Regions from separate parts of the Homo sapiens genome. Here regions 1, 2, 4, 5, 6 and 7 are each reported to be linked to region 3. The links are microRNA targets in miRTarBase. Many come from high-throughput screens and were not tested one by one. Region 3 holds a microRNA gene; each other region holds the end of a gene's coding sequence. Distances are between the middles of the regions.

Region 1 (4,074 bases), not on the chromosome of region 3:
ATCTACCATCATTTCAAAAAAGAGGGCTATTTTGATATCATAAAAGAAGGATAACTTCAGAATTTAAAAGCGTACACATTGAACTTTAATTAGAAAATAACCGTGTATTTCCTGTGGCTTTCTCATTTTCTGTGGAAGGATGAAAAGTTTATCATCATCTCTGCAAACTAAGGCTTCTTTGCCTTGAATACTTAGGGGCAGCTGCACCATTTGCAGATGTTATTTATTTCCTTGAAGAGGTGTTTTCAGGGCTGTAAGAGAACCCTGAGGAATTCAAGTGCAAAAATCTCTTGGTATCTTGCCTCAGTTTCCAATATTAATAGCTGTGTGGTGAGTGTTCAGCCAGAAACGGTATCATTGCTTAAGTAAAAAAGATTGTGGCAAGTAGCATCATGGAAACAAAGTTGAAAGGTTTTCTTAGAAATGATCTCATCTCTGTGGTTTTCAAATTAGTGCTCCATGGAGCCACAGTGGTGTTGCTTGAAGCAACAGACTTGCATTTTAATTGTTTTACTAGTTAAGTTTCTGATTAAGATACAGTTCAGTTGCTTTAAGAAAATGGCTGACCACCACTGATCTAATCCATCACCAATTTAAAGGGGAAACTAAGGCTAAAAGGAGGTAAGGGATTTGCTTGAGGCCACCCATTTAGTTAGCAGAACTTGGTGACACATCACCAGTGGAGTGGGGGTAGGAAGGATCTTGTCAAACCTTCCTAGTGTCTGTTCTCAGGTCATCAATGGTTGTACCAAATCTTTCCATCACTCCATTGCAGGGAGTCCACTCCACCTGACAGTTTCCGTTCTGAAACAGGCTCCTTTTCATACTGGACTCTGCATTCCACCTGACACACTTTCCTACATAATAGTGATAAATATTTCACTGACAACTGTTGGAAACTAATTTTTAAACTCCAGTTCTGCATTTTTGCTCCCATTTTGACTACTATTGATAAAAGTTTCCTTTTTTGAGATGGAGTCTTGCTCTGTCACCCAGGCTGGGGTGCAGGGGCACAATCCTGGCTCACTGCAAGCTCTGCCTCCCAGGTTCACGCCATTCTCCTGCCTCAGCCTCCCGAGTAGCTGGGACTACAGGCGCCCACCACCACGCCTGGCTAATTTTTGTATTTTTTTTTTTTTTAGTAGAGACGGGGTTTCACCGCGTTAGCCAGGATAGTCTCGATCTCATGACCTTGTGATCCGCCTGCCTCGGCCTCCCAAAGTGCTGGGATTACAGGCGTGAGCCACTGTGCCCGGCCTAAAAGTTTCTTTAATAGCATTTATTGGCTGGGCATGGTGGCTCACACCTGTAATCCCAGCACTTTGGGAGGACAAGGCAGGTGGATCGCTTGCAGCCAGGAGATTGAGACCAGCCTGGCCAACATGGTGAAACCCCATCCCTACTAAAAACACAAAAAAATTAGCTGGGCGTGGTGGCACGCACCTGTAGTCCCAGCTACTCGGGAGGCTGAGGCAGGAGAATTGCTTGACTCGGGGGGCGGAGGCTGCAGTGAGCCAAGATCGAGCCACTGCACTCCAGCCTGGCGACAGAGTGAGACTCCGTCTCAAAAAAAAAAAAAAATGTTTAGCTGAGTGTGGTGGTACACACCTGTAATCCTAGCTACTCAGGAGGCTGAGGCATAAGAGTTGTTTGGGAGGGAGGTGGAGGTTGCAGTGAGCCAAGATCATGCCACTGTACTCCAGCCTGGGTGACAGAGTGAGACTCAATCTCAAAAAAAAAAAAAAAAAAAAAAAAACTGTACATATATGAAGACTATAGAGCTAATATTTATATGAATATCATAATTTACAAGGTATTAAAATGTTTGAACTACATTGTCTTGTATATAAACTGAAATGAAGTGGTATCTACTTACTGGAGTTCCTCAGATAGCTGATCACATTGTAGGCTGAAAACATCTACAAGTCAAGTCTATCAAGGACCATATCATGCACTCATTGTGTAGAAGGCCCCTCAATGGCAAAACATACCATCTGGTAAGTCTGGACACAACTCAGCTGCACAGAGCAAACAAATGACGAACTCATATAATTTAAAACAGCGTTTTCACACTGTGGATCTTAACCATGGGCCATGAAATTCAATTCAGTGGGTTGTGAGAGGATTAACACACACACAAACCCACTGCCCTACCAAACACAATCCTAGAAGAGAAAAATGTCAAAGTATGTTACATGGCTTATGAGTAAATATTTCATAAACATTTTATTCCAATCATATATGTACGAACACATATGTACTGAGTCATGACATAAATTTTACAATTCTCTAGGGCAAAACATTGCTCTAAAGAAAAGCATACTTGGCCGATCAGTCCCTTGAGAAGACTTTTGTTTTTGATTTTTTGTTCACTTCTGAGCAATGACTCTACATCCTGAGTACACGGAAGCCCTCTCTCCTCAACTTGATAGCAGTGCTCTTTAGCACAGCCAGTTCCCGGCTCAGGCTGTTTTCTGGAGGGATGTGTCCTCCTCTTGCAGCCCTGTGAACTAACTGAAGGACAGCTGCAGCGGTGCATCTGAACCTGCAGCGGAGGCAGCTCAGGTCCTGCCTACAGCATGCACATGTGATGCCAGGGGCTTTCCACCATGATTTTTCACTGACATGATTTCCTTTCATTCACCGGTAGCTCTGCCTTACCTGTAGAGCTCAAGCTCCTAGCACAGAACACAGGGGCTGAGTAAAGGCTTCTAAATACATGCATTCAACAATAAGCACATTCATTTTGCTATAAACCATAAATATTACACTCAAAATATAACAGTTTCTAACAAAATAAAAAGTTTACCCATTTCTTCATACTTAAGAACTACAAAAGTACTATACAAACCTTTATTTACATTAAATCACAATAGGTACATAAAAAGTTGAGGCACTGGTATCTGTGGCTAATGGTAGTAATCACAGCTCATATAGTAAAGTGTATAACATTAACCTTTTAATTTTGAGCTGTTGCAAAATTACCATTTTAATATTATATATACCATATATTCAGTACCAATTATGACTTTTTTCTAAAATAATAATAGAACATGATGCCCAGGGAAAAAGAAAATACTTAATAACTTTCCCAAGTGCTAGTAAAAAACACATTGGTATACACCTGATTTGAGGGGCAGACATGATTCAGCCTATGAGCCATTAGGAGAGCGAAGCAAAGCTTTTTTAAACTGGAAGGACACTCATGCTGATTCGGTACAGACTCTTCATCTTTCATACTGGGAAACAATGCTCACCGGGGCAAGTGTCACATCATTATGTAATATAGTAAGAAAGATGTCCCAGGTCTCCTATTAACAAACCTAGAATCTTTTCTAATTCATAACAGAGGTTTATACTATAAATACAATCATATTCTTGAAAGATCAAATCAAATATCAAGAAAAACAGATCCATGACAATACTTTAGACTTCAAAAAATCCTAAAGCAATAATTTAATAAAAATATATGTCAACAACTGTGTTCAAGATAATAGAATCAGTGTGGAATCCAGTGCCGTAAACAGTGATGGCAGCAGTTTACTGGTGCAGTAATTCATTTATATGCTTATGTGGTACTCTGTGTATTGGTTGCGTTTTCATCTGTATCACTTGGGCTAAATTTCTTCCATAAAAATTTCTCATTTGATTTCCAAAGAGAAGTTGCTGGCTCTTCTCTCCTTTTAAAGGGTGCTGCTAGAGGTGCTTTTTCACACAGAGTCTCTATTACTGCCAAGTCTGTGAGTTTACTAAGACTCTCATCATTCTGCTCATTCAAGATGTCCCAGAAATCTTTTGGTCTCTGTTTTGCTTTTTCCATGGGCCCTGAAAGAACTTTCTTTGGCAGTTGTGTGGGACTGTTCCCATGACTTTTAAAAAGGTCATCAAGAATAGAGGTATCACCAAGTAAGCTTATCACAGAAGTATTTTCCAGCACTGGATTTTCTATCTTTTTGTTTTCCAATTTGAGAAGGGGTTCTTTTCTTGAAATGCCCGTTCTTGTGAGGTCCTGTTGGTCTTTCATGGTATTTTCTAACCTTCTCTCACGTGTTTCAGACTCACTGTTCAGAGAAC
Region 2 (4,065 bases), not on the chromosome of region 3:
GCTTCAGCCTTTGGACACTGGGGCTATAATGAAGTTAGAAATGGAAGATGTTAAAACTGCAGACCTAAAATTAGAGTTCACTTCAGCTGCTGTTACGTTCAGAGAATAAGAGCAACCATAACTTACATCAAGCCAATTTAAATTAGACTAATTTAAATTGTCTAATTAAATTGTCTCTAGATGAGAGCCCAATCTCATCTAGAAGTGAAGAAATCTCTCTATTGACAGTTATTAGTATAAGAGGTTCTAATACCCAGTGTAAGGCAGAAATATACATTGGAGTTAGTCTGTCTGAGGTATGCAGAACAAATGGCAGTATCATGAAGTGGTATGTAGGAAGTTAATATTGCCAATCTCAGTAACTTCCAAGAATAGGAAGCCTGGAAATGTATTAACAGCTTTATTAACAAAGTACTAGGACTAATAGCAACAAAATCAAGGAGTTGCAACCATAAGAAGGATGAGTGTCCAAGGACAACCAGTTAAGTATTATTTTAAGTATTATTTTATCCTCTTCCTTTTTAGGAGACAAAGACCAATCCATTTGAGTTTTGATATTGATGCATTTGACCCTACACTGGCTCCAGCCACAGGAACTCCTGTTGTCGGGGGACTAACCTATCGAGAAGGCATGTATATTGCTGAGGAAATACACAATACAGGTATGTAGCAACCAGGTCTGCAGCCTGTTAACTACATAGGTAAATATGCTAGAGTCTCTTGCCTGCAAAGGATCTTTTCTGCTATTCCACATCATTGCAGAGTTTGTTTTTGCTTAAACTTTTGTAGCTAAAAATTATATGGCCATGCTAATAAAAAGGATATAGTCCTTTAGAGTCATGCTTGGACATGGCTCTTACCAAATTACACTAAGGTAATAATGAGTAAAAAATTGTATATTTAAACAATTAAATACAAGAATAAATTGTCAAACTGATGCAGTTCTTTGAGTTATCTAAAGGCAGATTAAGATAAGAAGGCAAGATAAGATAAGAGTGCAAGGCTGTAATTTGCACTCTAAGAGATTGGTTCATTGGGAGTTGTGAATTTGGAGCTAAAGCTGATCTCTTGAAGAAATCTGCAAACTGGACAATATCTTGGGTCCTTTATGTAGGGTAGGTCTTGTACTAGAGCCTGAAAGGATTTCTAATAAGGGGGATACAGTTAGATGAGAATGGCTGATGGAAAGAGTACTAAGATGAATTCTACGTTATCAAGACTGGCTACTTTTCCAAAACTCATACTTGTTTGCAAACAGTTTCCATTTCTGTCAGAAAGCTTCTGGTTTTAAAGCTACTTCAAATGACCTTTCATTCCAAAATTTAAAGAACTACCAAATCATACTGCTTCAGTAACCATCTGATGGAACTAGGGTATAGATAGAGACCCCAGATTGAAAGGTTCAGGGCTATAGAGAACCCTTGACTAGCTGGGATAGAAACTCACATTGAGAAATGGTCTCCTTAGCGCCACAGCCTGCCAGAACCTTAGGCAGTACAAAAAGGCAGGCAGTACTGGTCTAATTCTCAGATCTGCAATCTTAGATGTTGCCAGTGGTCCTTAGGTTATTGGCCAGAGAACTTGGGGGTTCAATTCTCTGCTTTGCTTCCTAAAAACACCACTTAGAGCAGGGGTTAATAACCTCTAGCACTTATATATGGCATGGCTTGTCTCTTTGTTCCTATGCTACAATATTTTACTCCAAAAGACACTCATGGGGCTAGGCACAGTGGTTCATACCTATAATCCCAGTACTCTGGGAGGCCAAGGCAAGAGGATTACTTGACCCCAGGGGTTCAAGACCAGCGTGGGCAACATAGTGTGACCCCGTTTCTACAAAAAATAATTAGCCAGGTGTCCCAACTACTTGGGAGGTTGAGGCTGCAGTGAGCCATGATTGTGCCACTGCACTGTTATAATGCTGTCAACTAGATACATAAAGCAGTTTGCTTAATTTATAGGGTGGCAATAGTCTGGAAACATAAGTCATGTATATATTTCTAATAGTGCAAACTTTGATGACCACTTCTGGGATATGCTAAAGGTGCAGGTTTAGTCAGTGGAAATCAGAGACAAATCAGGAACACAGGTCCATGTGCAGGAAATGATGGAAATGCTACAGTAATACACCTGTTGGTTGCAGTTTGGCACTGTACACTCAACTATGCATTGCTAATAAGGGAAGATGCTGAACGGACATGATGGCATTCAGCACATCATGTACTATAGTGTAATATCAATAAACCATTAGGTACATTTGCCTGTGTTTCCAGACTTTATGGCCACCCTAAATATTCTTAGATACTTGTATTCCTGAATACTAGCTTGTTCAGATCACCCTTCATCCAGAATAACCAACTAAAAAGTTAAATTCTATAGAGAAGTGAGGCATTTAGAGGGGTGAGCATAGTAGCAGGTCTGGATAGGTTCTTCTGGTTTAAGCTTCCCTTCCACTTGCTCCAGGCCAAAGGAACACTACCGAGAACTTTGACACAAGTTCTCAAACCTTAACAGAAGGTAACTGAAGTCCAGATAAAATAATTAACATATGGCTGAATTTTCTCTTGATCAAGTACAAGACACTGGGTCAGTCTGCTGGGAGACAAAAAGATGTTGTTAGATGTGGAACCTGCCTCCAGAGCTCAGGCCTGCAGGGGTGAGAATGAAGTTTGCAGTAATAACTACATTTCAGGGCATATGGTGTGGTGCTCTAACAGATACAGATAACACATTAGAGTTCAAAAGTGGGAATGCAGTTTGGCTAGTGCAAGTGGCAGATTTCCTCTGCCTTCATACTTGATTCATTTCCAGGCAGGCATCTGGAAGGTTCCTAGTCATACTGGAGGTGGCATACATTTTGCCAACAAGCAGGATGAAAACCTCCCCCACCCAACACCAAGCCTTTTCCTTTTCCAGAACGCCTGACAATTATGCCTGTTATGTTAGTTGAACAGGGATGGTTTATTTCATTATCTTAAAAGGTTTCTTTTAATCTACTATAGCACAACAGTGTTTTAACTTAAATTCATGGCCAAGAGGATGAGGTGCAAGGGGCTTCCTAAAAATAGGTATTTTCTACTATAAAATGGACTCTTGTTTTTACTTTGGCTTGTTCTCCCTGTCCCAGTGGGATGACCCTCACTGAGAGTAGCAGCAAGGGAACCTGAGGTTTTGTCACACTTTGTTCTTCCAGGGTTGCTATCAGCACTGGATCTTGTTGAAGTCAATCCTCAGTTGGCCACCTCAGAGGAAGAGGCGAAGACTACAGCTAACCTGGCAGTAGATGTGATTGCTTCAAGCTTTGGTCAGACAAGAGAAGGAGGGCATATTGTCTATGACCAACTTCCTACTCCCAGTTCACCAGATGAATCAGAAAATCAAGCACGTGTGAGAATTTAGGAGACACTGTGCACTGACATGTTTCACAACAGGCATTCCAGAATTATGAGGCATTGAGGGGATAGATGAATACTAAATGGTTGTCTGGGTCAATACTGCCTTAATGAGAACATTTACACATTCTCACAATTGTAAAGTTTCCCCTCTATTTTGGTGACCAATACTACTGTAAATGTATTTGGTTTTTTGCAGTTCACAGGGTATTAATATGCTACAGTACTATGTAAATTTAAAGAAGTCATAAACAGCATTTATTACCTTGGTATATCATACTGGTCTTGTTGCTGTTGTTCCTTCACATTTAAGTGGTTTTTCATCTTTCCTCCCTCCTCCCACAGCCTGGCTATACAGTGCATCCTTGAACTGTCAGCCCACAGCAGCAATATGCTTATTCTATCCACATCCCTAACATCATGCATTCACAAGGTCAAAGTTCTGGTCCACAAACCCTTCCCTATAGAAGTTCAATGGCTGCGAAAGAATTTGTAGTAAACCAGGCCTCCCAGGATGGCGAGCTCCAGTAAGATGATAATGGAAAGCAGCAGCTTGTTGGTTGTCACTCTACAAAGAGAAGCAAAGTGGGGAGTAGTCAGAAGTTTGGATAACCTTCCTTCTAAACATTTTGGGGTTAGACCTGGGACCACGGCTGGATACTCTGAGGCTGTA
Region 3 (4,075 bases):
ATGTGTGTGCAGGTGTGCATGTGTGCAGGTGTGTCAGTAGTGGATCTGGCTACATGTGTCTGTGCCCAGTTTGCCTGTCTCTGGGATTTTCGTGTGTGCTCATATGCATATCACGTGTGCAGGGCCTGGGGCGTGGACGTCAGGCACTGAGCCTGCTTTGGAACAAGCCTGGCCTAGACCCCCGATTCCCACTCAGTATTGGGGGAGCGGGTTCCCACCCCCCTACCCATGTCTCCAGCTCCTCTGAGCTCTGACAGTCTGTTCCCAGGCTCAGCAGCTCCACGGAGCAGAGCACCTCATCCAGACTCATCCGGAAGCACAAACGCCGGCGGAGGAAGCAGCGCCTTCGGCAGGCGGACCGGGTAGGCAGCCGGGTGGAGCAGGGCGGGGCTGGGGAGGCGAAGTCAGTGTCGGGCAGCCCCGTGCCTTTTACACACGCCCCCTCTCCTCCATAGGCCTCCTCCTTCAGCAGCATAACCGACTCCACCATGTCCCTCAACATCGTCACTGTCACGCTCAACATGGGTGAGGCCTCGGGGCGAGGGTTGGGGGCAGGGGCAGGGGCTTGGCCGCGGCTCATGGCTCTTCCTGCAGAAAGACATCACTTTCTGGGCATCAGCATCGTGGGGCAGAGCAACGACCGTGGAGACGGCGGCATCTACATTGGCTCCATCATGAAGGGCGGGGCTGTGGCCGCTGACGGCCGCATCGAGCCCGGCGACATGTTGCTGCAGGTGTGTCTGTGGGGGCTGCGGGGTGACATGTAGCTGCGGGTGGGTCCGTGGGGACTTTGGGGTGACGTGCGGCTGCGGGTGGGTCTGTAGGGGCTGCTGGGGGACATGCGGCTGCGGGTGGGTCTGCGGGGGCTGCTGGGGGACATGCGGCTGTGGGTGGGTCTGCGGGGGCGGTGGACTGAGCTGCACATCCTGCCTGCACCACCCTAATCCCCACCCCTGCAGGTGAATGACGTGAACTTTGAGAACATGAGCAATGACGATGCCGTGCGGGTGCTGCGGGAGATCGTTTCCCAGACGGGGTGAGGGCTGGGGGCGCTGGAGCGGGAGGGGCCAGGCAGGGAGGTGGGACCATGGGGGCCTTGCTGTGTGACCACCGTTCCTGCAGGCCCATCAGCCTCACTGTGGCCAAGTGCTGGGACCCAACGCCCCGAAGCTACTTCACCGTCCCACGGGGTGAGTGGCCCTCGGGGCACACGGGGCGGGATGGGGAGGGGGCGCCTACCTAGCCTGAAGGCCTCTCTCCTCTGTGCCCTGCACCCTGCCCTCCCACCCTGTCCATCTGTCCGCCTGTCATCGCCACGTGGCGGCCACCCAGCTGACCCGGTGCGGCCCATCGACCCCGCCGCCTGGCTGTCCCACACGGCGGCACTGACAGGAGCCCTGCCCCGCTACGGTACGAGTCCCTGCTCCAGCGCCGTCACGCGCACCAGCTCCTCCTCACTAACCAGCTCCGTGCCTGGTGCTCCACGTAAGTGGCAGCTCCTGAGGGCCCCAGCAGAAACCGAGGCTTGGAGGGGGCGTCTCTGCCAGCCTCCAGCATGGCCGCCTGTGGCCGTCATGGGGCTGTGACACGTGTGTGTTGCCTGTCCCCAACTCCCTGCACAGACGTGTGCACAGGCACCCGTGCCCACCTTGTGCAGCCCATCCTGCTCATGGTCTGTGTGTTGGGAACAGGGGATGTACGTAGGGCCCCTATGCGGGGAGCACCCACGGCGTCAGAGGCAGGGGCCAGGTCTCCATTCTGCTTCCTGCCATTAACACGACTAACAGCCTGCGCTCTCGGGTGGGGCATGCGGGGAGGGGAAGGGGCCTGCCCTGTTCTCATTACTTCCTGGTCTGCAGGGTGGGGTGTCAGCCCAGTTTGTGCCTAGGATCCTGATGAAAAGTGTCTGTAGAAGTGGGAGACTAAATGTCCAACCCCCCTGCTCACGCCCCAGCCTCACGGGGGTGCATCCTGCAGTGGGCCGGGGCCCTGCTGTCACGCACCGTCCAGCTTGCGCCCTGGCGCAGGCTCTGCCCAGAGGCTCCCCTGGGGGTGCAGGGCCCTGAGTCCCCCGCCTTCAGATGCTGGGGCTGAAGCGGGGCTGTCTGTGCTTTGCAGAGCTGGAAGAGGCGCCGCTGACGGTGAAGAGTGACATGAGCGCCGTCGTCCGGGTCATGCAGCTGCCAGACTCGGGACTGGAGATCCGCGACCGCATGTGGCTCAAGATCACCATCGCCAATGCCGTCATCGGTGAGTGGCCGTCCCCGCGGGCGGATAGTGCCAGGGGCAGGGCTGCTTGCCTCGAGGCTGCGGGCTGACCGCTGGTGCCGGCCAGGGGCGGACGTGGTGGACTGGCTGTACACACACGTGGAGGGCTTCAAGGAGCGGCGGGAGGCCCGGAAGTACGCCAGCAGCTTGCTGAAGCACGGCTTCCTGCGGCACACGGTCAACAAGATCACCTTCTCCGAGCAGTGCTACTACGTCTTCGGGGATCTCTGCAGCAGTGAGTGGGGGCTTCGGGCTTCAGGGCGGGGGGGAGGGGAACGCCGGAGGCCCCTCCGCGGCCCTCACCTACCCTCCCCCGCCAGATCTCGCCACCCTGAACCTCAACAGTGGCTCCAGTGGGACTTCGGATCAGGACACGCTGGCCCCGCTGCCCCACCCGGCTGCCCCCTGGCCTCTGGGTCAGGGCTACCCCTACCAGTACCCGGGACCCCCACCCTGCTTCCCGCCTGCCTACCAGGACCCGGGCTTTAGCTATGGCAGCGGCAGCACCGGGAGTCAGCAGAGTGAAGGTGAGAACGCCGCCCCTACCTGCCCTTCCCCGGCTCCGCCCCCAGCTCCGCCCCACTCCACTGCTGCTCCGCCCCCAGTTCCACCCCACCCCGCTGCTGCTCCACCCCCAGCTCCACCCCACCCCGCTGCTGCTCCGCCCTGCTTCTCTGCTGACCCCAATCCCATGCTCCTGCTGTGTACTTGGGCCCTGGGTGGGCTCCTTCTGGAAAAGGCAAGTGCCAGGGGGATCCAGGAGCCAGTGTGAATGGGGAGGACAGGGAAGCGTCTCACACAGGGGCAGCCTGGACCCCACCTCATCTGGGTGGGATTGGGATGAGGGGCCTCCAGGAGCCTGGCGGCCTGGGCGGCTGTGCCTGGTAGGGGTGGCGGCTGGTGGTTCTCCTATGGTAGAGGCAGGAGGCCCTGAGACCATGTGGCCATGGGCCATGTGACAAGGACAGGGCAGGGGTGGCCAAGGAGTCTGACAGGGTCACTTTCTAGGCCCCAGGACACAGGAGGGTGGCAGCTGCAGCCCGGGTAGGGAGCCTGACGTGGATGGTGCCGTGCATCCTAGCCTTGTGCCCCTGGCTGGGGTGTGTTTAGGGGCCGGGGATCCAGAGTGTTCCTGAGGTGTTGCCTGGTGGAGCAGAGGCCCCAGTGGGTGGGGTTGGTGAGGCCAGCAGGGGCGTCTGCAGGCCAGGGAGGGGTGCAGGTGGCTTCGTGGAGGGCCCAGGAAGGAGGGCGAGAGAGGAGAGGCGGCCAGAGGGTGTGGGACCGCAGAGAAGCCACGCTGGGTGTCTACTGACCCTCGACCGGCGCTTGCGCCCACTTCAGCCCCGCCCAGCCCGCGGTCAGTCCCCACTGGTGGCGGGTGGGTGCTGGGCAGGTGCCAGGCAGCCGGGCGTGTAACTCGTGCTATCCCTTGTCTTGTGCTAAACAAGCCTTAGACTGAAGGACTAGCGGAGCGGACCTTGGGCCGGTAAGCCAGGGTCCCGCCCGGGGTCCCTCAGCATGTCCCCAGCCAGCCACGCCCTCCAGCTCCCACTGCGTCTTGGGAGCCCAGGACAGGGCTGAGCTGAGTCATCCGTCGGCCAGGGTCCTGGGCCGGGGGGACAGTGGGGCCTTGGGTGGGGAATCCAGGATGGCCACGGGGGCACCGGGCATGAGGGGCCCTCGCTGGCACCTCAGTCTTTCAGCCGCAAGACCAGGCCCTCAGCTCAAGCATCGGGGTGAGGTGTGGGGGCGCCCAGCTTGCCCCAGGACCCTGCCTGCCTCCCACTGCCCCCACCAGCCCATGCCT
Region 4 (4,069 bases), not on the chromosome of region 3:
GCTGCCACCCCAGCTGGGGCGACTGACGGCGCTGGCCCCGCCTCTGCCTCACTGTGCTGTAGGGCGCAGCCACCTGAGCCTCTCCCTTTCCCACGTGTGTAGGTGATTGAGCTGGTGGACAAAGAAGATGTTCACATCTCCACCAGCCAGGTGGCTGAGATTGTAGCAACACTGGAAAAAGAGGAGAAGGTGGAGGAGAAGGAGAAGGCCAAAGAGAAGGCAGAGAAGGAGGTCGCAGAGGTGAAGAGCTAGAACCACTGGCCTGGGCACCTGTCCTCCTGCTGTGCCGTCACCCTGGCAAGGGCCGTGAGGGCGATTGCTTTGTGGTGATTCTCAGTGGCTCATCTAATATTTTGGCTGGAATAAATCAGAGACTTCCATAATCAAGTAAATTTTAATTTTCATCATTCCACGGAGATTCAGTCTGTCTGGAATCCCGGAACCCCTCCACAGAATCGTGTCTGGATCCACACTGTGGTGTGGCTGCCACGGCCTCCTGGCTCCAGAGGCAGCTGGGCTGGGCCAAGGCAGGAAGGCGCCCCCATGTGTGTGGCCTCAGTCTCAGCATCTGACTGTGCTGCCCTGTCCCCAGGGAAGAGAATGAGGACCACGTGGACTCCGCCCACACAGAGCTGGCTGCTGTGCCCACCCTCAGGGGCGTCAGGAGACACAGCCTGGCCTCCTCAGGGCTGAAGATGCCTCCATTCGCCTGTGGACCTTGATTTCTAGATTTCAGTGTCAATAGACCTGTCTTCCTGCACACTTTCAGTTGGATGTGGGTCATTGTGGAGACAGAGGTGTCTGCCATCTCTGTGGCCTCTGGAGAGTGACGTCTCCCTGCTGGGAGTGCTGGTTCTCACGTGCGGTTTCCCTTGTGTATCGGAGCTCTTTCTCGGCTTTCTATTTCCCCCAGTTCTTTAAGCAGTCAATTGGCACAGAGTTTCCCACGGGGGCTGCAGTGGATTCACTGTGTCAGGGATGAGCCTGGCTTGGGGGTTGGTGGGGCTCTGAAGCGCATTTGGGGTTCTTTGTAGCTTCTAATGTGAGGTTTGAGTCCAGTGCGCCCACAGCAGCATGCCCTTCTCACCCCTTGCAGTGTTGCAGGCTCAGGCCCCTGGGCTCCTTCAGCAAGCAGGCTAGTCAATGAGGCATGAGGATCCGGCACAGGGCATCCCCTGGGGCTTCAAGGGCAATACCCCCGTGCTTAGGGTTTGCCCTGTGCCCTCTGGGTGGGGTGGCCTCCCCGCACTCGGCAGCATGGCCAGGCTGGCCAGGGCGTGGGCAGGTGGTGTCCTGTGGCACCTCCATCCTCCTGCCCAGCCGGCTGTGTCACACTCATCTTTTTAAGGTCAGGTTGGTTCCTGGCAAAAATGTACCTCCAGGGGCCTCCAAGCATAGGATTTGGAAGACAGGAACGGCACAGGCGTCCAGGAAAGCAGCTGCACTCAGACAATGCCTTCTCCATTACTTGAAGCTTCTTTCTGTTCAGCCATTAAAGAAACTTGACAAAATAGGAACAGGAGATATTTCTCAATTGTAAACCTTTGTGCAGGGACAGTTGGCTTCCAGAGGCTTTCAGCTTTCAGTTATTTGAGAAGTTTGTTTTAGATCCTTAACTAATATTTATGAATTCTCTCACCCTGTGTAAGTAGCCTGGTGTTCGTTTGTCCAAGTGTACTTACCCTTGAGAACAAGTCTTGCAGTTGCCAGGTGTGTGCAGACGCCTCTCCTGTGAGCGGCATCGCGGGCCCAGTCAGCTGCCCCGGCTCTCATCCTCGTCCTCACTGCCTTGGCTGAGCACTGTTGACGTGAACAGCCACTGCAACAGGCAGCCCATCCCACTGTCCCCTCTGCCCTGGACTCCGCATGGCCTCCAAAAGCCAGCTTGCCCTCCGGGTGCTGCAGGGGCTTTGCAGGTGGGGAAGGCTCTGGTGGGTGCCTTTGGTGGCTTCCGTGACATCAGCCGTGCTCTGATGCAGGCTTGCTCCCTCGTCATTCTCCCTCGTCATTCTCCCTCATCGTTCTGTGTGCATTTTTCTCTATGTCCTGACCTTTCTTCTTGCACCTAAAAGTGGTGTCTGGGTGCAAATGTAAGCAGTGGTGGATCCAGAAATATGAGCTTTGTGTAATAAGCTTCTTAAAACAGTCCTTTCTTACACCTGCCCAGGGCCAGACCCTCGGTCTTGGCCTTTTTCAGGAGCTAGGATATCTGCGCCTGGTGAAAATGAAACGAATTCCTGATTTAGGAATTCAGTGTTTCCTCCTCACTCCAGCTAAGCACTCACTTTTTTTTTTTTTTTTTTTTTTTTTTGATACAGAGTCTCGCTCTGTCACCCAGGCTGGAGTGCAGTGGTGCGATCTCGGCTCACTGCAAGCTCCACCTCCCGGGTTCAAGCGATTCTTCTGCCTCAGCCTCCTGAGTAATTGGGATTACAGGCATGCGCCACCATGCCCAGCTAATTTTTTTTTTTTTTTTTGAGACAGAGTCTTGCTCTGTCTCCCAGGCTGGAGTGCAATGGCGTGATCTCGGCTCACTGCCAGCTCCGCTTCCTGGGTTCACGCCATTCTCCTGCCTCAGCCTCCCGAGTAGCCAGGACTACAAGCACCCGCCACCACACCTGGCTAATTTTTTTGTATTTTTATTAGAGACAGTGTTTTACCGTGTTAGCCAGGATGGTCTCGATCTCCTGACTTCGTGATCTACTCACCTCGGCCTCCCAAAGTGCTGGGATTACGGGCAAGTTTTTATTAGAGATGGGGTTTCATCATGTTGGTCAGGCTGGTCTTCAACTCCTGACCTCAGGTGATCCACCCGCCTCAGCCTCCCAAAGTGCTGGGATTACAGGCATGAGCCACCGCGCCCGGCCTGAACTCTCAGTTCTAACGCAGGGATTCAGGAATTGGGCTTTCAGACTCCTTCTGCAGTGTCACAGTCCAGACTTTTTTTAAATGAAGGACACCCCGCAGTGGCTCACAGTGGGTCCCAGGGCTAGCAGGAGCGTGCTGGGGAGCCGGCTCTGTCTTTGTTCGCAGTGGGTCCCGGTGCTGGCAGGAGTGTGCTGGTGAGCCGGCTCTGTCTTTGTAAATCCTTCAGGGGTCCTACGGCTGACTCCACCGGACAGCCCGTCCTGGGCCGTGTTAAGCACCTTTTGTAGAAATCGTATTTTTATTAAAACATCAAATCTGTGTTCCTGTAACAGTGCAGAGTAATAATATTTCTGAACCGTTGGGCACACAGGAGCGAGTGGAAGCCGGCAGAGCTGTCCACGTGGCTGCAGGGGCTGGGCCTTGGGGCGCGTGTGGCTGTGAGGCCAGTTCCAGAAGGAGCCTCACCATCCCTGGGGGTTTGAGTGCTGGGCCGCCCTCCATGGGTTCAGCCCTTGGCTTCACGCTTCCTGCTCTGCAGGATGGGCCTGCAGGGTCAGGAGACCCACGTCCCCAGGTCCTGTGACAGCGTGAGCTGCTCATGGAACAGTGTGGGACGTTCTCCAGGCCAGTGGCCCTGCCACCTGGTCATGCTCTCCCTGCTCTGGGGACCTCAGTGACTTCTTGGGAGTCCTGGGGTTAGGGGCTGGGACCCTCGCCGAGGTGTCACCCAGGAGGGCCAGCTCTTCTGAAAGACTCCTCAGGCCGCTGAGGGGAAAGAGCACCGAGTACTGCCCTAGGGAGTCCTGGATGAGGCAGGGCCTTCAGCCTGCAGTCCAGCCCACAGGCAGGGCCCAGACGCCCTGAGGGATGTGTGATGGCCTGGGGCCATGGAGAGCAGCCCCCAGCCCGGACCTCTGGGTGCCTACCTGCCTCAGCGTGGCCTGGCTGCAGGAGTGCGTGGATGGTTCCAGCGCCAGGATAGCAGTGTGGTGTCTTGGCTCCCGACCCTTCTCAGTGGACAGAAGCCATCCCTTAGGTGCTCTGCCCACACTGGGACCAGGCCCTGTGGGCACCTCACAGGCTTCTCTGCGGCCCTGGCTGCTGGTTTGTTCACACTGAGAGTCCTCCCTCGGGGCCTCCCTTGACCCCTAGGCCCTAATTAATCAGAGGAAATGATGGACCCACAGCTGGGGTGGGAGGT
Region 5 (4,072 bases), not on the chromosome of region 3:
TGAGTAGGCAAGCATTTCCAGAGAACTTGAGGAAACTAGATTTTAACACTCCATATTTAAACTTCACCAATGGTAGCGATAAAAAAATGCCCTATTGTATAGAGTACCCTTGATATAACAAACTCCATCTTAGAATAAGACTTCATTTTATGTTTCAGAGGGCACTTTGCCAACAAGGATAAGATGTTTTGTTTAATAAATAAAAAAGATAAAGATTGCATCCAATCAGATAAAGACACAAACAAGGACACTCGTCCAAGATCAGTTCTCACCAGAGGCCTCTGTGACTTTAAAATGTCAGGCCTTCAGCAGCTCGAAATGGGGCTGTCTTAACTGATACTGTCTTGCAGTCACTCATGATAAGAACTTGGCATCTGCTTCTGCCACCTCAAACACTTTTCCTTGCAAGACTGACCTGCTCCCACTGGACTGGTTCCTTAACCTTTCTCCTATCTCTTTCTCCTCTTCATGTTCAATGCTACTTTGTTTATTGTGGAATGTTTAATCTGTAATATATGTATATTGATTAAGCATACTATTATGTATGGTTTCCCATATTGACTGACTTGTGGAGTGGCTCAAGCCTGTGTGCCTGCGGCTCTGACTACCAAGAGAACAGGAGGTACTAAAGAGAATTGCTTCCTTGGGAACTCCATGTAGCCTCTGGCTTTTGTGACTGAATTAGCATCAATAAAAGCCTGACATTCTGGAAAGACACAAGCATGTGTGGACCTGGTTATTTTTAACCTGGCATCGCTCATGACACCTATGTTCAAAAAATTCTTTTTTTTTTTTTTTCTTTTTAAAACTGCTATTGGGGCATTATTCAATGTCTTCAAACAAAGAATCCTTGACAAATTTCCTTCAGAACCAAGCACTGGGCAAAAATTTCTTCCTTCTGACGAACTGTTTCCTAAAATTGCACACAAAAAAGAATTCTGCAACCAGTTTTCTTTTTATAGGTTGGTGGACAGCTCAGAAGTAAGTTTTATGTTTAATTGCTCTTATTCCTCTCATTCAGAATTTATTGCTATTGTTTCTTCTTTATCCTTTATTTTTTGGTTCATGTTGGTTCTTAGAACAGTTTTTACAACCTCATTTTTTTTTTCTGAAGTGGGTGGTATAAAAAAGTTGCAATTAATTCAGGAATTAAAAATGTGGCTCCTAAGACATTTCTTTCTTTCTTTCTTTCTCTCTCCTTCTTTCTTTCTTTCCCTTTCTTTTTTTCTCTTTCTTTCTCTTTTTTCCTTTATTTCTTTCTTTTTCTTTCTTTTCTTTTCTTCTCTTTCTTCTTTTTTTTGATAGAGTCTCACTCTTGTTACCCAAGCTGGAATGCAGTGGTATGATCTTGGCTCACCGTAACCTCCACCTCCTGGGTTCAAGTGATTCTCCTGCTTCAGCCTCCTGAGTAGCTGGGATTACAGGCATGCACACCCACCTAATTTTTGTATTTTTAGTAGAGACAGGGTTTCTCCATGTTGGCCAGGCTGGTCTCAAGCTCCTGACCTTAGGTGATTGACATGTCTTGGCCTCCCAAATTGCTGGGATTACAGGCATGAGCCACCACGCTGGGCCTTATTTTCTAATGGCACTGCATTCCCCTGTCAGAATATTTGCTCCTCCCTCTCCATTGTTTATTTACTTGAAGTGAAAAAGGACAAAAAAGCAAAAGACAGCAAATTGATGGCAGAAGGTTTGCCTGGAAAATTCCGAGGGACAAAGAAAGAACTGGCAAATAATGCCCCCCCGAAACAGATAGGTCCTGGGGAGAAATATGATTTCCACGTTTGCAGACTCCTTCTCTTGTACAAACGGGTTGGGAGCTGGTTTTGGTTCAGTTCTTTCCTCAATGCTCAGGAAACAATTGAAATTACAAATGCGCCCCAGGTGCTGTCTTCACCAACGATGCATGGAAAGATGAATGTGTTTACATGTAGTCAGGGGCTGGAAGGTGGAACTCACAAAAGGATTGAAATTAATATGCAGAAGAGGACCTGGGAGAGTTCCCTATCCTTCCTGCTAAGTGCATCCCCAGGTTTCTAAAACATCCATTCAGATCTTTGTATTTGTTTTAATTTGTCCAGAGTTATTCACAAGGTTTTAGAAATCAATTAGTTCTGTAGTTGGAAGATTACCCATTAGGTAGAAATACAAGAGTCTTGGGGCTATTTCTCTTCAAATAGGTAATTTTTGACTTTCGTGCCTGTGTCTAGTTTTGAGGAGGAAAGATCTGATGCCTCCTAATTTTCCTTGTGTGTTTTTAAAGGCATAGTAACAAACATTGACTCCAGTAAGCTGTAGGTGCCAATGGGTGCGTTAAATGAGGTTTTAGAAAAGGAGACTTGAAGGAGGCCCGAACAGCAGAGGGAGTACTGGCCTGGGAGTTGAAACACCTGAATTCTATGCTTGCCCTGCCAGTATCTAGTACGGTAGGAACAGTGGGCCGTTTGCCACCTGGCGTCCCATGCATTCTCTCCCTCCTCCCTGCCCCAGGAGGCTGATCCTCCAGACTGCATCACCCAAGGTCCCTTGCTGTCTGGCATCCTATTAGGTTGGAGATGACAGATGGGAAACAGAGACTCCCATCTCCGGCTGTAGAGATCTCAGCGCGAATACCTCCTGTATGTTCCCCTGTCCTGCTGTTCTGGCCCTTGCTTTTGGCCTTGTCACCCTTTGTTCTCATAACCCTGATCACACCTAGCTAAGTGGTCCCCTTAAGTTCTTTTCATCTGAGCCATCTGGGGTGGACTCTGTTTTCAGGCACGTCTCTGAATTTTACAAATGGCAACCAGCTTTAGCAAACTGGAAATGGGTTTGAATTCCAAACCACTGGGATCACAGCGGCTGTGTCTGGATTCTTTCCAGAAGGCTGCCAGGTGGGAAGAGAAACAGGGAAGATGAATTGGTACCCACTTGCCTGGTCCTTTGCAGACTGCTGCTCTATCTCCTGAAAAGCGTTAAGACCAAAGACAGCTCCGTTTTACCCACCAAACATATTAATACACTCAGGCACTTAAGGATAAAGAGCTTTGCTCATGACTCAACCAAAAAAAATTTTAATGGAATTTTCTTCTTTTTTTTTTTTCTTTAAATAACAATTTGACAAAAGGGTGAAGAAATCCTAAACAAGGTATTGAGGCCAGTGTCCAGGCTGCATTCAGTTCACAGAACTGTCCTCAGGACGTTGCATGGAACTGGAAATGTGTATAATTACAGAAGAAAACAGGGAGGACTTAGTGCAGAGAGGAGACGAGTGTGGACGGGCAACAGCATCCTTAGTCTTTCATATTTATATATGGTATATGTATTTTCTATATATATATTTATATATTTTACATCCAGGTATCCCAGTCATCTGTACCATTTCCCAGGGAGACATGGGTGCTTCCAAGGCGAGACAGGAAAGGGTTAGGCAGGGAAGGGGCAGCGACGGTGCAGGCTGGGGCTTGGCTCACAGAAGCTGCAGGAGCTTCAGCGACTGTAAGAGGGCCCCGGGCTCCGCAGACGCCAGGTACTGGCAGCAAAGCCAGTCCTCCAGCTCCACGCCCCGCCTGCGATCCACCGCCTTCTCCGCAAACTTCATCATCATCAGGGCCCGCTTCATGTCGATCCAGTTGTGCAGCGTGCCGCACAGCGCCTCCTCCGAGGTGCCCGGCTGCTGCACCAGCTCGCGCCGAGGCCCCCACAGCAGGCACTGCAGCACGCGCTTGGCCTCGCCGATGCGGATACGCTTGATGGGGTCGGCCTCCAGTAGCAGATGTGCCAGCTGCTGCAGGCCGGGTGAGTAGAGGGACAGCGCGGGCAGCGGCGGCAGGTCCTCCTGCCGGTAGTCTCTCTCCCGCAGCTGGGCGCGCACCTCGAACGGGTTGGGTTGGTGCAGCAGCTCGTAGATGAGGATGCCTGTCTGGAACTCATCGAACTTGCGGTACTGGGAAGCAGACACGATCTCGGGGGCCAGCCGGGCCTGGCTCTTCTTCTGCTGCAGGTTTGGGGTGCCGCCCGGCTTCTGCTTGGCCTTCAAAAAGTTGCTGATGATGAGCCGGGGCAGCTGCTTCTCCCGGGGCCCTTCCGG
Region 6 (4,000 bases), 18 Mb from region 3:
ATGGATCTCGGCAGACCAGAGTCAGAGTAACTAATTAATCAGAGCCTATCCCCAGAGCCCAGCTTGTTCCCTCCCTAATGCGCCTTGTCCCTTCCCCCACCCACCACATTTCTGAATTTCCTGCAGCCCACCCACCCCCTCAGATCCCCACCCCAAGACTTCCAAGGAGCTGAGGGGTCAGAGGAGAGGAGAATGGGGTGAAGTGGGACCTACACTCTGCTGAAGCTGCTCATGGGTGTGGATGACCAAAAGTGAGGACAGAAGACGAGGCCGGGGGACAGGAATGGGTTCCATTCAATCCAGCAACAACATGCACCATGTCTCGTCCACAGGAAAATGCTGGGCTACCACAACTGCCTACCCTAGATTAAAAAACCCTTCCTTTCATAAAAATAGATGAGAGTCTCTTGCTTTATAAATAGATTACATTTAGCTTAAGTTACATCTTATATTCTCCCCCACCCCACCCCCTCTCCTCCCACTCCAAGCTTAAGTGGTTTAATTCTCCCTAGGTCATCTGAGCTCTACCCACAGAGTTAGTCCACGATGGATTTGGCCCTTCAGGGACCTCAAGACATTTTCTCAAGACGAGAAAGAAAAATGTGTTGATTTGCCAATAATTTTTTTCTCTGTTCGGAGTCTCAGAGGAGTGCGAGTGTGTGTGTGTGTGTGTGTGTGTGTGTGTGTATTTCACAACCAACCAGGGAGCCAAAAGGATGCTAGTCTTCCTATCCCTCCCCAATCCTCTGTTTGTATAAAACCCCCAAAAACAGGAGACAGAGGGCAGCGCAGGAGAGCCCATCTGAGAAAATTCTAAAATACCAGTGTCAATATGACACTGGGCTTAGAAATAGAAAGTCAAAATTAAGTATTTACAGCTTTACAAAGGATGGACCAATTCGTCCCAGCTAGGACTGGTGCTGCCCCAGCGAGCGTTGGGGTCTTTCTTGGCAAGCTGTGGGCTCATGGTGAGGGGACAAGCAGGGCCCACTGACATTAACTGAAAAAAGCATGTGGTGGAGAGGCAGGCAGGCAGGCAGGCAGGCCGGACCCAGGAACCAGCCCAGGAGGCAGGCCCATCACACTCTGGCTTTCCCTCTCCTACCCACCTGCCCCAAGTCCTCACTCCCAAGAGGAGAGCAGATATTAAAAGCCAGCCAGAAGGGACTCTCAGGCCAGGATCTCTTTCTGGCTCCTGCAGTTTTCAAACTCCCTAGAGTACCCTAGTCCTCAAAGACAAATGACCTATGTATACAAGGAGGAAAGTAAAAATAATACCGCCGGACACCGATAACCACAGTAACCTTAGTTACTCCCATGCTAACACTGCTGCCTTACAGTCTTAAGTCTAAAGATATATCTGTCACCCTCCCACCACCTTGGGGAACAACCCAGGGCCGGCTTCCACGCTGCCCACGAAACTCCCATACCACATTGTCCAATGCCTCCCTCGGCCCTGGACGGAGGAGACCCACGAGGGTGGATGTTTTCCTGCCCTCGAGGAAACGGAAAATCTTTTTAGCAGCTGAGGTCCAAGCCCAACTGGCTCTGATAACCTTTGGTTAAAATAAAAATTCAACAACAATAACAACAAGAATCAGGTATGTTTGAACCCTGTAACCTTTAGAACAAGGGTGAGTGAGGAGAGAGAAGGGCCGTCTCTCTTCCAAAACCATTGTCCCTCCAAGTACCTGTCAAAGGGAACTGTTTGGCTAACAAGAGATGCTGACTATGGAAGTGTCACAGCCAGACTGCCACAGGGGACCCGTGGGAGGTGCCCCCAGCAAAAGAAAACAAAGGAAAAAACTCATGACGAAGGCCACCAAATCGTGATAAATTACATCACACATAGTCACTAACACATTCTCACGCTCTCTCTCTCTCTCTACATATATCTTTTATGTACAGTATTTTTAAGACTGTAACACAGGTGGGGGAAACAGAAAAGAGAGAAGAGCCTTAAAGGCCACGGACCCCTGGGGACCACAATCCCAGTCAAACCCAGAGCCCCCTCCTTCTGCCTCCAGGCAAGGCAGAGGGACCCAAGTTCTAGTCCTTGGGCACATTTTGCTACCTTGACCACTAGAGGGAGCTCCTGGGACAATAAAAAATTAAAATTGGCAACAGACCCACTGCAGTAGGCTTAAAAAATAATAATAAAGCAAAGCCTGCTCAGCTGGCTCCAAGCTGAGATTTGGAAGGGGGCCACACAGTGCCCTTCAACGCAGTCCCACTCAAGCCATTCAAGTCTTGGGGGATGCTGGCTCAGATCAATACCCCGACTGGCCAGTCGAGGGAACTGCTGAGAGCGGCTTGCGTGTGTCGAGGAGCAGAAAGAGGATGGCCCTCACTCCAGCTCCTGCACTGCCAGCAGCCCACCCTGCTTCTCTCCTGCCAGCAGCCAAAAGCAGGCAACTGCCGGACAGTCCTAACCCAAGGCGGGTAGAAGGGAGCAGAGACCAGGCCTGGCCCCTTCAGACTTTCTCACAGAGAAATTACAGATCTCTAAGCCTCTATTGTTGGCTGGCGAGGGAGGGAAGAACATCAAGTTATCAGGGAAATCAAGGATCCCTCCGCCCCCGCCCTGAACCCAGAGGTCCGGAAGGAAGCAAGCGGTCAGGGAGGCCAGTGCCTTGCGGGAACCCCAGCCTCATGACCAACCTCGGCCAAACCCACACTACCCAGTCAGTGCTGCCACACAGATCACCCTAACCCCGGCCTCTCTCCCAGCTCCAGGGGGAAGCCAGGAGCCCAGGAGAGGTCCTGCCTTCCACAATGATATAAGGCAAGCTGCTTTTGTTGTTTGTTTTGTTTTTTGCATAGTAGTTTAAACACAGTGAGGCTCTGCCTTCCCCTCACAGTGCCTTGTCCCTTCAACTTTGCCACTCGATCCCCCCAAAAAATTAAAATGTGTCCTCCTTCCCTTCCTTCCACCTTTCTCTCCTTCAGGGAGTGAGAAAATTGGGGTGGTCCCTACCCAGGCCTAGAAAGCTCACAGAGGCAAGCGGCTCCTTCCTGGGGGTTGGCAGAGCACCCCAAGCTCCAGGCCGAGTCTGGGCTGGCTCAGGAGGAAGGGAGGGCATAGCCCATGGCCAATCAGAGGAGCAGGTGGGACGGACGGCAGAAACCACATTACACCACGGCCGGTTGGCCCGGCCCTCAGCTTAGAGTTCTGTATAAAAACACCTGCTAGGAATAATTCTTTGGAGCTCAAAGTGGCTCAGCTTAAGGGAGAAGGCACAGTTAACACTGCAAAGTCCGCACAGAAGTCTGCATTTGTAATGTGGAGAACAATAGAAATTGACAGCACCATTCCTTGGGTGGGTGGGGGATGGAGACGGGGCACCCGTTGGTGGTGTGGAAGGAAGGAAGGAAGCAGCAGTCCCTCAGGGCCTCCAGAGAAGGGAGGGCAGAGAAAGTCTGTGTGGTGTGGCTTCGAACCCCACTCCGAGGGGCCTTCCTGGCCCCATGAGGAGAGGTGGCAGGGCCCCATCACCAAGACCACCAGGCTCGCAGGGCCTCAGTCATCAGCTGACCATGGGCTCCACATCCGCCTCGCGCTCGAACTCATCCTGGATCTCATCTGTACTTCCTGAGTCGCTGCTGGCCACGGAGCTGGGGGACGGTGAATTCCTGAGAAGCACAAGAGAGTGGGGAAATTCAGAGAGCAGCCCTGGGCCTCTGAAGGGTCAAGGAGTGGGAAGGCTGAGCTGCCACTTCTATAAGATCTACTCTCAGAGGGGCCTGGTCCTGAGCTCCTGCCTCACTCAGCTATCCTTAAGATCCTTTAAGCTCACGAGGTAACCCCCTGCACCAGCCCCTACTTGGTCTGGCTGTGTTGGCTTCTCTAGGAAGAAAGCCCCTTGGGAGCTGGACCGTGGATCAAGTTTGGCTGTTACTCTCCAAGCACCTAACCCATGTCTGGGCATATAGTAGGTGCTAAGTAAAACCTGAATGACTCAGAGCTCAAAAGGAGGCCATGCGGGATATGGTTAACATC
Region 7 (4,075 bases), not on the chromosome of region 3:
TACAGAGAGCTGCGCATGGCCTTTTCTGCTCCACCTGAGGGAAGAAAGGTGGGCTCAGCCTGGGTGCTGAAGACCATGAGCGCCCAGGGCCAGGTGGGGCCCTGCACAGTTCTGACCATTGAGTTTGGTGTCGCCCGCAGGGTCAGCCACAACAACAAGGTGAATCTCATGACCAGCGAGAACCTCTCCATCTGCTTCTGGCCCACCTTGATGAGACCTGATTTCAGCACTATGGACGCCCTCACAGCCACGCGCACCTACCAGACAATCATTGAACTCTTTATCCAGCAGTGCCCCTTCTTCTTCTACAATCGGCCCATCACCGAGCCCCCCGGCGCCAGGCCCAGCTCCCCCTCTGCCGTGGCTTCCACCGTCCCCTTCCTCACTTCCACGCCTGTCACAAGTCAGCCGTCGCCCCCACAGTCGCCTCCACCCACCCCCCAGTCCCCAATGCAGCCACTGCTTCCCTCCCAGCTTCAAGCCGAACACACGCTGTGAGCCACCAAGACCTGGGGCGACAGGAGAACCGGTCCTCTCTCTGACGGGGTGGCATTTGGCCTTGAACAAAACCAAGTCCACTGGGGACAGAGGCAGGGGCAAGTGGCTCTCCCCATTACCTTCTCAAGACCTCAGTGGGAGCACCAGCCAATGGTACCATCGGCTGGGCTGCCAGGTACCCTGGGCCTGGCGCTGCAGACCTGAGCTGGCTTGGACCCATTTGAGGACTGAACTAGGCAGGCAATGGCTCCAGTGCCCTCCCTCTGTTCCCTGGACCACCACCCCACGTAGCTGCTCACACCAGCCTCCGGGTGCCTCCCTCTGCTTGTACAGAGCCCATGGTCGGGACAGTGCCCTGGCCTTTGCCGGGGAGGAGGATGCTCTGAGATTCAGGGTGGGGCTGGCAACCCCTGAAGAGAACACTTCCTGTTGGTCTGTCTCTTCCCACCTTCCATCTGCACACACCCCCAAGGTAAGGGTACAGCCCGGCTGGCGGCCTCCTTGGGAACGTGTAGGCCACGGCTCTGCCACCACTAGGTACCTGCTGAGGGCGCTGGCTCTGCAGATCAGAACAACGGAGGATAGCTTTGTGCCTGGACCCAGAGAGTGTGGGACTCCCCGCTTCATCCCCACCGTCCCACTCCACAGCCTTCCCGAAACATTCCCTGGCAAACAAAGGAACACTAGGAGAAAAAATGGAAAAACCCTTCCAGTAATTAAAAAGGAAGAAACCACAGAAAGAAAACTACAGACCTCAAGATTCCACTCTGTGCCCGCCTCTGCCGGGAGGGAGGGAGGCACACAGGTGGAGCTGACCCTCGTCTTTGTGGCAGCAAAACCAGGATGCCTGGAGCTGTGGCCTGAGGGCCTGCTGGGGTCCCACTCACCCACTTAGGTCTAGTCGCTAGATCCCCCGTTTTCCCAAGAAGAGGGTTCGAGCCCTTGGTGGGGACAGCTGGGGAGATGGCAGTGCAGGCTGGAACCTGGGCTGCCCCAGAACACAGTCCATTACGATAGAAACACTAATTGAGCATGTGCGTGGGGTGGGGGTGTGTGTGCACATGTGAGTGTGAGTGTGTGTGGGCGCTTGGTGGGGGGTTGGGGACAGCTGGAAGGTGCCAGGTGCACTTGGGGTTGGGGTTGGTGTGTTGGGTGTTGAAGTGGAATCGTTTCATCCCAGCCATGGAGGCCACCAGCAGGAGTGTTCATGGGGATGTGGGCGAGGTGGGGCACTTTGAAGGAATGGCGGTCTGCTGGTGCCCTCGAAGGGGCATCCTTCCTGGTCTTCGCTGACCCAGAGGCGCTGTGCCTGCATATCATCCACCACCACCCTAGCCCAGCCTTCCCACTGCCCCAGGAAAAGCTCTTCTCCTGGCCACCTCTGCCCCCCAGCACCTCAAACTTGCATGGCTGGGCTGTGGCCTCTGCGGCCAGGAAGCCTGACACTAGGCACCCCCCAGGCGAGAGCTAGTGGGGTGCAGAGGGCCCCATGCCAGACAGCCCTTGGGGCTCGTTGCACTTTAAGAAATAGGATCTGTGGTGTATTCCAGGGGGCCTGATGGACACCTTTCCCGGGCGTCTGCAGCTGCCCTGCCCGTGCCCGCCTGCAGTGGTTGGAGACGGGAGTGGCCCTTCGGCTCCCGAGCTCCCTCTGGGGACGGCTGGCTCACTGTCTCCAGTTCTCAATGGCCAACGAAGGTGCTTGGAAACACCTAACCTTGCAAGTTTTACCGCCTTTTGAGGAACACAAATCGGAGAACAAACCCAGGGTTCAGGCGTGTTTTCTGTGAATGTTGGATGATGAATTTTTGTCTCTTCTGGTGGAGCTGTGCCTGGCCCTGTAGGCCCAGGGTTGGCTGGAAGGTGACATCTGTGTTTCGTTTTAGCTGAGGTTGGCAGAAACGTTCCCAAACTCCCCCAGCCCTGGACCCCAGCAGATGAGGAAACGGCCCCATTTACTGACCCCGCCCCCTTTTCGAGGTTATGCTCACCTGGTCAGCTCCTCACGTAATTGGGGGTGGAGGGAAAGCATGGTGGTGCCCTGGGCCGTCCCTGTGTGAACGCAGGCAAAAGCAGCCCAGTCCCCCTCACTGCTTGAGCTAACACTGCCACCTCTTTTGTGTGAGCACAAAAGCCACGTCCCAAGCCACCTGGCCCGATTCCACAGATGTATGTGCGGCCAGTGACTTCCCCAGGAGTGTGGAGGGGGTGGTGAGGAGGAGCACCTGGGCTCTCTACCCCTCTCCTCACAGAAGTACCTGAAACTAGGTCTGGGGCACTCCCAATGCAGCGCCTTGTCAGCCAAGGTGGGCAGGCAGGGACTGTGGCAGCTTATGTCCAAAGGGAGCCCCCATGCACAGGAAGCCACAGGGTTCCTCTTGTTTCCCCCGCTAACTTCAGCCTCTCATCTGCTGCTCCGGGCTGAGGGACTAGAGGACATCTCGGTCGTTTGAGGGGCATGGCCAGTCGTGGCAGGCCGGCCTTCAGCGTCCGGTCAGGGAAGCGTGCAGCCCAAATGGGCACTTGCATGGGAGCCACAGAGGAGCGTCCCTGGGGATTGTTGGGACCATGCTGCCCCCACTCCCGCTTTTGTTGGGGCTCTAAGTTCTGGAAGGTGTGTGCACAGAGGGTGCTCATGGGACTCGCATGCAGCTCTCAGCACTGGGTGGGAGGGCGTTGGCTTGTCCAGAATGGGGACGTGGGGCAGCCACCCCTGCCCAGCGAGAGCGCAGACACCGTGTGAGGGGACAGCAGCCCTTGGTGCAAAGCCAGAGACTGATCCTGGCTCTGACGGCTGAAGAGGGAAGACCCAAGGCTGGGTGGCGTGGCTCGTGAATCCACTTAGAATTCTTGGCTTGTGTCGCATACTGGGTGTCACGGCACACATTTACTCTGCATTGTCCCCGTCTTTCCCATCGCCTAGCGTTTGGGGAGGAACAGGGAGAGAGCTTCGGGGCGTCTGTCTCCGTGCTCTCCTGCCTCCACCGCCTTGGTTTTGCTTCCTGCTGGAGGCAGGGCACCTGCTGCGACCCAGATTCTTCTGCAGGATGTGTCTGTCTTTGTCACGGTGGACAGAGGGTGACATCATAGGAGCAGCTCGCTGGCCAGAAGGGGATGGGGGCATCCCTGTGCCTCACTCAGCTCCTGCTGCTCTTAGGGAAAGGAGGCCTGGGTCAAGCCAGCATCCCCTTGGTAAAGACCCCCGCAGGCCACCAGGCATTCTGGACACGCACACACACACACACACACACACACACACACAAAACTTCACAGCAGGCCAGCTGCAGTGACTTGTCATCAAGAGTCACCTCAGCTGCGCCCCCCTCCCATCCTTTCCTATGAGAAGCCACTGCTTTGGGGGCGCCGGCTAGAAAAAGTAGGGTGCGGTGGCCAGGAGGGCCCCTGCCGCGCGGGGGGCTGGGTCTGGTTGAGTCGCTGCTTTCCCGAGGGCAGCGCAGGGATCCGGGGAAGCTGCGGCAGGGAGCGGGCGCCGGCTTCGTGGCTCTGAGGTGTAACGGGGGTGGGCTCCCTCCCTCGGAGGACATCGTCTGTGTCCAGGTCAGAAAGTGGCCCAGGA

Evidence for each region. Region 3 holds the annotated microRNA hsa-miR-6808-5p (CAGGCAGGGAGGUGGGACCAUG, at 1,069-1,090, shown strand). A microRNA usually pairs through its seed, bases 2 to 8, with sites in the 3' UTR of a target mRNA and lowers its output. Matches are read on the target gene's strand: a 7mer-m8 pairs with bases 2 to 8, a 7mer-A1 pairs with bases 2 to 7 and ends in A, and an 8mer does both.
Region 1: the mRNA of ERCC6L2 is a reported target of hsa-miR-6808-5p. Seed matches in the 3' UTR shown: 7mer-m8 at 1,471-1,477 and 7mer-m8 at 1,334-1,340.
Region 2: the mRNA of VTI1B is a reported target of hsa-miR-6808-5p. Seed matches in the 3' UTR shown: 7mer-m8 at 2,810-2,816, 7mer-m8 at 1,503-1,509 and 7mer-A1 at 1,489-1,495.
Region 4: the mRNA of LETM1 is a reported target of hsa-miR-6808-5p. Seed matches in the 3' UTR shown: 7mer-m8 at 2,569-2,575.
Region 5: the mRNA of PRAG1 is a reported target of hsa-miR-6808-5p. Seed matches in the 3' UTR shown: 8mer at 3,410-3,417.
Region 6: the mRNA of IFFO2 is a reported target of hsa-miR-6808-5p. Seed matches in the 3' UTR shown: 7mer-m8 at 1,069-1,075, 7mer-m8 at 1,039-1,045, 7mer-m8 at 1,035-1,041, 7mer-m8 at 1,031-1,037, 7mer-m8 at 1,027-1,033 and 7mer-m8 at 1,023-1,029.
Region 7: the mRNA of ARHGAP35 is a reported target of hsa-miR-6808-5p. Seed matches in the 3' UTR shown: 7mer-m8 at 3,473-3,479.

The regions. Positions count from the first base shown.
Region 1 is chr9:96,012,698-96,016,771 of GRCh38, reverse strand. It overlaps ERCC6L2 (ERCC excision repair 6 like 2), which reads right to left. Exons shown (of 19, transcript NM_020207.7): 19 at 1-4,074. The coding sequence ends at 3,569. Among named protein-coding and RNA genes, the nearest start is that of LINC00092, 7.1 kb to the left of the region's middle.
Region 2 is chr14:67,647,522-67,651,586 of GRCh38, forward strand. It overlaps VTI1B (vesicle transport through interaction with t-SNAREs 1B), which reads right to left. Exons shown (of 6, transcript NM_006370.3): 6 at 1-3,960. The coding sequence ends at 3,864. It overlaps ARG2 (arginase 2), which reads left to right. Exons shown (of 8, transcript NM_001172.4): 7 at 526-662; 8 at 3,194-4,065. The coding sequence ends at 3,399. It also overlaps a transcript of GPHN not described here. Among named protein-coding and RNA genes, the nearest start is that of VTI1B, 25 kb to the right of the region's middle.
Region 3 is chr1:1,336,697-1,340,771 of GRCh38, reverse strand. It overlaps MIR6808 (microRNA 6808), which reads left to right and starts at 1,064; the gene lies at 1,064-1,122. It overlaps DVL1 (dishevelled segment polarity protein 1), which reads left to right. Exons shown (of 15, transcript NM_001330311.2): 6 at 269-362; 7 at 456-525; 8 at 595-734; 9 at 960-1,036; 10 at 1,123-1,190; 11 at 1,333-1,485; 12 at 2,119-2,250; 13 at 2,336-2,503; 14 at 2,589-2,795. RefSeq lists a silencer at 2,769-2,828.
Region 4 is chr4:1,810,607-1,814,675 of GRCh38, reverse strand. LETM1 (leucine zipper and EF-hand containing transmembrane protein 1) reads left to right here. Exons shown (of 14, transcript NM_012318.3): 14 at 103-3,197. The coding sequence ends at 252. Among named protein-coding and RNA genes, the nearest start is that of FGFR3, 19 kb to the right of the region's middle.
Region 5 is chr8:8,314,703-8,318,774 of GRCh38, forward strand. It overlaps PRAG1 (PEAK1 related, kinase-activating pseudokinase 1), which reads right to left. Exons shown (of 6, transcript NM_001080826.3): 6 at 3,034-4,072. The coding sequence ends at 3,452. Among named protein-coding and RNA genes, the nearest start is that of PRAG1, 70 kb to the right of the region's middle.
Region 6 is chr1:18,905,034-18,909,033 of GRCh38, forward strand. It overlaps IFFO2 (intermediate filament family orphan 2), which reads right to left. Exons shown (of 9, transcript NM_001136265.2): 9 at 1-3,633. The coding sequence ends at 3,528. Among named protein-coding and RNA genes, the nearest start is that of ALDH4A1, 4.5 kb to the left of the region's middle.
Region 7 is chr19:47,000,191-47,004,265 of GRCh38, forward strand. ARHGAP35 (Rho GTPase activating protein 35) reads left to right here. Exons shown (of 7, transcript NM_004491.5): 7 at 141-4,075. The coding sequence ends at 498. Among named protein-coding and RNA genes, the nearest start is that of NPAS1, 18 kb to the right of the region's middle. RefSeq lists enhancers at 2,271-3,016, 3,017-3,763.